Regions from separate parts of the Homo sapiens genome. Here region 1 is linked to region 2. The links come from fine-mapping of genetic effects on plasma protein levels. A gene starts in region 2. The other region holds a variant in brackets. All regions are shown on one strand. Distances are between the middles of the regions.

Region 1 (4,308 bases), 22 kb after region 2:
TGGGAGGCTGAGGTGGGCGGATCGCCTGAGGTCAGGAGTTGGAGACCAGCTTGGCCAACATGGTGAAATCCCATCTCTACTAAAAATATATATATATATGAAATAGCCAGGCATGGTGGCGTGTGCCTGTAATCCCAGCTACTTGGGTGGCTGAGGCAGGAGAATCGCTTGAACCCGGGAAGCGGAGCTTGCAGTGAGCCAAGATTGCACCACTGCACTCCAGCCTGGGCGACAGAGCGGGACTCCATCTCAAAACATAATAATAATAAATAAATAAATAAAAAGGAAGAACAGGTGAGCCAAAGCAAAGCTAATCTTCAACGATAATGGGCACAGACAAATTGTTATCAATATGTAGGGACTCAGGGATTATTTTTCCCACGACCCCTTCCTGAGAAATCCACTAGAGAGTGCACTTCAGACAACTAGAGAGATGTCAACAGAAGGGCTGAGAGTCAGTACTGTATATTAGTTACTCATGGAAATGAGACTAATGAAGGTAAAAGAGAGAGTATAGTATGTAATGGCCATATGATCTGATAATGTAGACATTATAACCATAAAAAATAAGGAGAAAGGAAATAGCATTTACAAAAAAAGTTTAAATATGTTTTTAGTAATCATAATGACGAAGGTAGTACTACTAGTTATTCTGAGACTGTTTAATGTATTGTGTAGGATAAAACAAATAAGGAATTATGGAATGTTCTAATTCTCCCATTTCTGTGTCCGTAAGAACCATGACTCTTGATGGAAGAAAGAAAACACAGACTTTTTGTAGTTTTGTAGTCCCAAATTTGACAAACCCAATAGTAATGAGCATCTTCAATAGTAATGAGCATCCTGGTGCAGAGATGGTAGTCTCTAATGACCTTTTTTTTTCTTTTACAGTTGAGTCTCACTCTGTTGTTCAGGCAGGAGTGCAGTGACCCAATCATAGCTTACTGCAGCAATCCTCCTGCCTCATCCTCCCAAGTAGCTGGAACTATGGGTACATGCCACAGCACCCTACCAAGTTTTTTTTCACTTTTTATTTTTTTGAGATAGAGTTTCACTATTGTCCCCCAGGCTGGAGAGCAACAGCATCATCTCAGCTCACCGTAACCTCTGCCTCCCAGGTTCAAGTGATTCTCCTGCCTCGGCCTCCCGAGTAGCTGGGATTACAGGCACCCGTCACCATGCCCAGATAATTTTTGTATTTTTAGTAGAGATGGGGTTTCACCATGTTGGCTAGGTTGATCTCGAACTCCTGACCTCAGGTGATCCACCCTCCTCAGCCTCCCAAATTGCTGGGATTACAGGTGTGAGCCACCACACCCAGCCCCCCAGCCAAGTTTTTTATTTTTGTGGAGACCATTGGGCACTATTTTTCCCCAGTCTGGTCTCAAACTCCTGGACTCAAGTGATCATCTTGCCTCAGTCTTCCAAGTCACAGGGATTACAGGTGTGAGCCACTATGCCCAACTCTAATTATCATTTCTCATTAAAGAAACCAAGATTCTTGAAGAAATATGTGGAGACTGCTGGATGCTGGGGAAATGGTAAGATCAATGGATTGCAGTGAACGTGAAGGACACAAATTGTTGAGGTGGCATGGTTGAGTAAGTGAGCTAAAAGGAGATTATTGGAGATTTGGGGTTGAAATTTCTAAGATGGTACAGTTTTTGGTGATGCTAAGGTCTAAGTTGAGGCCAAGGCAGGCGGATCATCTAAGGTCAGGAGTTCAAGACCAGCCTGGCCAAGATGGTGAACCCTGTCTCTACTAAAAATATAAAAATTAGTTGGGCGTGGTGGCAGGTGCCTGTAAGCTACTCAGGATGCTGAGGCAAGAGAATCGCTTGAACCTGGAAGACGGAGGTTGCAGTGAACTGAGAGTGTGCCACTGCACTCCAGCCTGGGCAAGAGAGTGAGACTCTGTCTCAAAAAAGAAAGAAAACAAAAGGAAAATTAAAGAAAAGGAAAAGAAAAGAGAGAGAGGGAAGGAAGAAAGAAAGAGAGTGGAAAGCAAGAAAGCAAGAGGCCAGGTGCTGTGGCTCACGCCTGTAATCCCAGCACTTTGGGAGGCCGAGGTGGGTGGATCACGAGGCCAGGAGATCGAGACCATCCTGGCTAACATGGCGAAACCCCGTCTCTACTAAAAATACAAAAAATTAGCCAGGCGTGGCAGAGGGCACCTGTAGTCCCAGCTACTTGGGAGGCTGAAGCAGGAGAATGGCATGAACCTGGGAGGCGGAGCTTGCAGTGAGCCGAGGTGGCGCCACTACACTCCAGCCTGGGTGACAGAGCCAGACTCCGTCTCAAAAAAAAAAAAAAAAAAAAAAAAAGAAAGAGAGAAAGAAAGAGGGTCTTGCTATGTTGCCCAGGCTGATCTCAAACTCCTGTCCTCAAGTAATCCTCTGCCTC[G/C]GCCTCCCAAAGTGTTGGGATTACAGGCATGAGCCACCTGGCCTGCATCTGATTTATCTTTGAAACATCCAGGGACTAGTAAAATTGGTGCACCCAGACCAATTTTTTTTTTTTTTTTGAGACAGAATTTTGCACTTGTTGCCCAGGCTGGAGTGCAATGGCGCGATCTTGGCTCACTGCAACCTCAGCCAAGGAATTCGGGCAGCCTCTAGAAGCTGAAAAGGGAAGGAAATAGATTCTCCCCTAGGGCGTCCAGAAGGAACCCATCTTCACCAACACCTTGTAGTCCTGTAAGGCCCGTTTCAGATTCTGACCTCTAGAACTATAAGATAATAAAACTGGCCGGGCACGGTGGCTTACGCCTGTAATCCCAGCACTTTGGGAGGCCGAGGCGGGTGGATCACGAGGTCAAGAGATCGAGGCCATCCTGGACAACATGGTGAAACCCGTCTGTACTTAAAAAATACAAAAAATTAGCCGGGTGTGGTGGTGTGCACCTGTAATCCCAGCTACTTGGGAGGCTGAGGCAGGAGAATCACTTGAACCCGGGAGGCGGAGGTTGCAGTGAGCTGAGATCACGCCATTGCACTCCAGCCTGGGCAAAAAGAGCAAAACTCTGTCTCAAAAAAATAAAACTAAAATAAATAATAATAATAATAAAACTGAGTTTGTGGTAATTTGTTACAGCACCGAGAGGAAACAAATACAACTGCCTGCCACCTGCATCCTTCTCATGCGCCCCCATACATGCATGCATGCATGCATTCATTCATTCAGTGTTATGTGTTGCTCCAAACACTGAGGACACAGGAGAACAAGAGACAGGTTTCTGCCTTCAAGGGGCTTACATTCTAGAGAGTGCAGACAGCCAATGAACAACTCAGGAAATAACTTCAGTAGTAAGTGGCATGAAGAAAACGAAACAAGATACTGGGAAAGTGACCACTGCTGCTCACCTGGAGGAGTTAATTTAGACAGAGTGGTCAAGAAGGGGGGTCTCTGAGGCAGTGTCATTTGCACTAAGCTTTAAATAAGAAGGAGCCAGTTTTGTGTTGACCTGAAAGAAGAGCATTGCTGGCAGAGCAACTAGTGAGGGGATAAGGTCTGAAGGAAGAATGAGCTTGGAGGGTCTGAGGAACAGAAAGGAGGCCAGTGTGGTGGAACAGAAAGAATCATGGGGAGGCCATGGCAGAGGAGGTGGTTAGAGAGGAAGGGAGGGGCCAGACCATGCAGGGGCATATATACCACAGTAAGGAGTGTACATTTTAATTACAGAGAGAAGCTTAAGAATTTCAGTGGGGGAGTGATGAGATTGTATTTTTTTTTTTTTTTTGAGACAGAGTCTTGCTCTGTCGCCCAGGCTGGAGTACAGTGGCTTGATCTTGGCTCACTGCAATCTCCGCCTCCTGGGTTCAAGCAATTCTCTTGTCTCAGCATCCTAAGTAGCTGGGATTACAGACAAGTGCCACCACACCTGGCTAATTTTTGTATTTTTAGTAGAGACGGGGTTTCACCATGTTGTCCAGGATGGTCTCGATCTCTTGACCTCATAATCCACCGCACTAGTCTTGGCCTCCCAAAGTGTTTGGATTACAGGCATAAGCCACTGCACCTGGCCGTTTTTTTTTTTTTGTTTTTTTTTTTGTTGTTGTTTTGTTTTTTTTTTGAGATGGAGTCTAGCTCTGTTGCCCAGGCTGGAGGGCGGTGGTGTGATCTCGGCTCACCACAACCTCCGCCTCCCAGGTTCAAGCGATTTTCCTGCCTCAGCCTCCTGAGTAGCTGGGACTACAGGCATGTGCCACCACACCTGACTAATTTTGTATTTTTAGTAGAGATGGGGTTTCACTATGTTGGCCAGGCTGGTCTCAAACTCCTGACCTCATGATCTACTGCCTTGGCCTCCCA
Region 2 (4,384 bases):
CCCTGAGGGTAAAGTCCATATTACACAAACAGGGGGCAAAGGGCCTGGGCAGGAAGGGAGCACAAACAACACCTCTGGGGAGGAGCTAGGCAGCTTGGGGAGCAGGGCAGGGGAAGGGAATCATAAAAATCCCTGCTGTACCCAGGAACCGGGAGCATAGGGAGGGGCAGTGTCACAGGCCCTCCTTTGGTAGAGAGCACTAGGGGTGGGATAGAGCCAGAATCTCCAGCCCCTCCTCAACCAGAGGCCTCCCCTCCAACATCCCCCACCCCCATCACAGCCAGGACAAAGGGGCTATAGAAGGACTGAGACAGGGCCGGATGCCCAGAGGCTGCAGGACCCAGATAAAGGGTAAAGAGACCCAACCATGCCTGCCTCCTGCCTCCCCAGGGAGGGTGGCCAGACTCTGGTACTCCTGGGTTTCTGGGTGAAGATTGCAGGAGTCTGGATGGGACAGTTATACAGTCACTCCACTGCTCCCTCCCACGCCAGTCCCCAGACCACCCCCCTCCACCAGCTGGGAGTGTTCACATCTAAAAATCCCAGGATCTAAATTTAGGCCCAGCAACTGTGAGGGAAGCACAGGTGGTTTCTTCCACTCCCACACTGGGGAAGGGGCCCTGGCTGTGCCAAACCCCAAGCTGAGATCTGAGGGGAGGGGAGGAGATCCACAGAACTTCAGTCCTCAGGTGTCCACGGTCCCAGAGACACCCCAAAGGGGTGGGCTCAGATAGCATGGGAGTCGGGGGAGGACTGGAGAAGAGCAATCCGGGGCTCTGTCTAGGGTCCTAGAGACAGTGTCAGACAATAAGCAAAATGGGGGCGGGAGGCACAAGCTGAGCCCAGGAAGGACTCCCCAAGGCAGGAGGCTTAGAAAGTAGCAGAGGTGCCCTCTTGATCCTCAGGTTGGGGAGAGAAAAGACCAGAGGCTGGACATCCTTGCCCTTACAGCTCCTGGCCCAGGGCCTTGTGTATAGTAGATGCTCAATAAATATGAGTTGTGTTGACCTGGGTCTTGACAAAGAGATGTTGCTTAAGCTCTGCTATACTGAGGAAAGGGGGCGCCAGCCTCTGTTGGGCCTCCTGCCTGATGTCACCTGAACTTGGCCCTCTGGTTAATCTCAGACCTCCCCAGGGCAGGCTCACTCACGGAAGAGGAGGTGCCGCTCCTGTTTTTCCAACACCAGAGAACAACAACCCCCTCCAACCTTCTGTAGCTCCGCCCTGTCGGCAAAACAACGAAACTAGGGGTAGCTGAAATCGGCGCGGGTGGGGGGCAGGGGGTTGGCGAGCAAACCGAGACCCTTCCCGCCAAGGCCCCCACCTCCAAGCACCTCCTGTTTACAGAATGAAGTTCCCTGCTCCCCTCCCTGCAGGGCCCCTCAGAAGTGTGAACTACTGTTTCGGCCTCAGCCTCTTCTGGGGAGACCAATTAGAGGGTCGGCGACGCTCTGGAGAAGGGTGGCGTGAGGGTCCCGGAATGCCGCCCTCGGCCGGACCACGCCGATAACCCGAGCCTGACCGCCCCTCTCCCAGGTGGTCCTGGCAAACCGGGGGCAGCACCCACAACCCCGCGCCGCCTGAGACCGTGCCCATACCCTCCGAGGCTGCGCGCACTGGGTTCCGGCTCCCAGGTGCCGAGCCCGCCGGTGCTCTCGCGCCACTTACCTGCCTGAGAGTTGCCCACCTCGGAGCCCCGGGCCAGGCTGAAAAGCAAGCCCAGCACCTGCAGAGCGTCGTTCGCCCTCATGACTCCGCAGAGGGTGAAGGGAGCCCAGCCAAGTCCGGCCCGGGGGCCCCTAGGCTAGGACATCGAGGCAAGAGCCACCTGAACCGCTGGCGAATTGGTGGCTGCTGCGGCGACGGCAGCGGAGGTTGCAAATTGCAATCGGAGCCGGAGCCGGAGTCCGGGGAGGGATGGCAGGGGAGGGGTGTGTGTGTGTGAGAGAGAGAGAGAGAGGGAGGGAGGAACGCAGAGGGAAGGGGGTGAGTCACGGCCGCGCCCCCTCCCGCGCGAGGCTGGAGTAGGGATTGCGGAGCCTCGGACCGCCTGCCCCGAGCGTGCCACGCCCCGCGGTCCCGCAACTTGGCGGAGCAGATCGAGGATGGGGCTCACCCTAATTTTTCTGCAGGAGATAGGCCAAGGGGAGGTCGAGATTCCGAAAGCCCCCAGATCCAGGGAAGGGTAATGAATGAGGGAGTGGAAAGCTCTCCAAAGCCCTGCCCCCTGAAAGTTGGCCTCGCCCATTAACCAAATCACTCAACTCCCCTAGCCGGTTGGTTCACTTGGTGGATTTTCTCTCAGAATGTGAATATTTCTCTCTGTGTGTTTTTGAGGGGGAGGGTGTTTTTTGCCTCACGTCCAGGCCACCTCAGTTTCTCCCAGACTCGAAACCCCATAATTCATCCACCCAGCCCAGGAACCCGAGCCACAGAGACCGCGTGAAATTGCACTGTCTCTGGCCGCTTCCTCCTCCAGACCCGGCGCCGGCCGGGCCTCTCCCGGGGATTTGGATGGGGGGCGGGGGTGGTTTCCAGCCTGGGAACAGACCCCGGAGCCCGCCTTTCCACTTCTACCCCGGGAGGGGCTCCCGCACCTGTCGCCGTCCCCTCTGCTGCCCCCCACGGCCGCCTGGGAGAACAGCTGCCTCCCCTTCCACACTGGAGTCTGGCCGCACCGTCCGGGCGGCCGCAGTTCCCGCCGCTCTTCTGGGGACCCAGATGGGCACACACCAAGGCGCTTACACCCTCCCAGGTGCCTTCCAAGTCCAGGCTCTCGCAGGAAAGGGGATGGGGCAGTGAAGTGGGACGCGGAGAGGACACTAGAGACTGCGTCCACGAATGGCGTGGACCTCTGGAACCTCCCCCACCAGCTGCCCGGACCTGGCCAGAGGCGGTCGGGCTCCCTGCGGGTTGCTGCCCAAAGCCCTGCTAGTCCCGGGACGGATCCGACCGGCGCCGCCTGGTGCCCATCCGTGGCAGTGGAGTCCCAGACGGCCTTGCATTTCAAATCCCTTAAACTGGTATTCGGGATCTCGCCCGGAGAGCCTAGTTGTTTTCTCCAGAACTTCAAGCCTGAAGACTTCGAAAACAGTTGAGCCTTGATAAAGAAAAATTTCACCCCTCACACCTAGCAAAGACTACCGGCTAACATTCCTTAAACATGCTCCCTATTGATATGCAACCTAGAGGGCCTGTTCTCTACTGGAGAATCTCCGCTTTGGGGAGGTTGGCTTTCTCCAGACCATGTGTATAGTAGTCATAATAATAATAGCAACAACAAAACCATTAACATATACAAACATTTCCATATATCATTTCATTTACAAAGTATGTCCTCAAACTTAGTGCCTTAGAGAATGTGTCACTTAACATAAAAATTATATGATTTAGGCAATATAACTCCCCATTTTACAGAACTAGAAGTGTGTGACCTCTCCAAGGTCATCCACCTGGTGACAGTGGTTGAGGTGATCAGGTGATTGGGAGGTGGGGCTCAGACTTTTACCTAGGGTTTCTTTCTCTCTTTTTTTTTCTTTTCTTTTTTTTTTTTTTTGAGACAGAGTTTCGCTCTTGTTGCCCAAGCTGGAATGATCCACCTGCTTCAGCCTGCCAAAGTGCTGGGATATCTTCCATCTTAAAAAACAAAACATTCGGCTGGGCGCGGTGGCTCATGCCTGTAATCCCAGCACTTTGGGAGGCCGAGGCGGGCAGATCACTTGAGGTCAGGAGTTCGAGACCAGCCTAGTCAACATAGTGAAACACCGTCTCTACTAAAAATACAAAAATTAGCTGGGCATGATGGTGGGCACCTGTAATCCCAGCTACTTAGGAGACTGAGGCAGGAGAATCGCTTGAACCCGGGAGGTGGAGGTTGCAGTGAGCTGAGATTGCATCACTGCACTCCAGCTTGGGCGACAGAGTGAGACGCCATCTCAAAACAAAAACAAAACATTGTTTTGTTTGACCTCATGGCCTTCTGGTCTGTTGCTTTTTTTTTTTTGACACGGAATCTTGTTCTGTTTCTGTCACCCAGGCTGGAGTGCAGTGGCCTGATCTCAGCTCACTACTGAGTTCAAGTGATTCTCCTGCCTCAGGCTTCCAAGTAGCTGGGGCTACAAGGCGTGCGCCACCAAGCCCGGCTAATTTTTTGTATTTTTAGTAGAGATGGGGTTTCACTGTGATGGCCAGACTAGTCTCTAATTCCTGACCTCAGGTGATCCACCCACCTCAGCCTCCCAAAGTGCTGGGATTACAGGTGTGAGCCACCACACCTGGCTTTTTTTCCTTTTTTTGAGACAGGATCTCCCTCTGTCACCCAGGCTGGAGTGCAGTGGTGCAATCATGGCTCACAGCAGCCTCAACTTCCCAGGCTCAGGTGATT

What was found. PIP is the chance, under the fine-mapping model, that this variant and not a neighbour inherited with it causes the effect. Protein levels are from the aptamer-based SomaScan assay of Sun 2018.
Region 1: its variant is fine-mapped to the plasma level of the ERBB3 protein (Sun 2018, PIP 0.95).

Annotation. Positions count from the first base shown.
Region 1 is chr12:56,055,816-56,060,123 of GRCh38, reverse strand. No RefSeq gene overlaps it. Among named protein-coding and RNA genes, the nearest start is that of RPS26, 16 kb to the right of the region's middle. The variant G/C (reference allele first, on the strand shown) is at 2,404.
Region 2 is chr12:56,077,667-56,082,050 of GRCh38, reverse strand. ERBB3 (erb-b2 receptor tyrosine kinase 3) reads right to left here and starts at 1,886. Exons shown (of 28, transcript NM_001982.4): 1 at 1,669-1,886. The coding sequence starts at 1,750. RefSeq lists enhancers at 1,239-2,229, 4,054-4,103.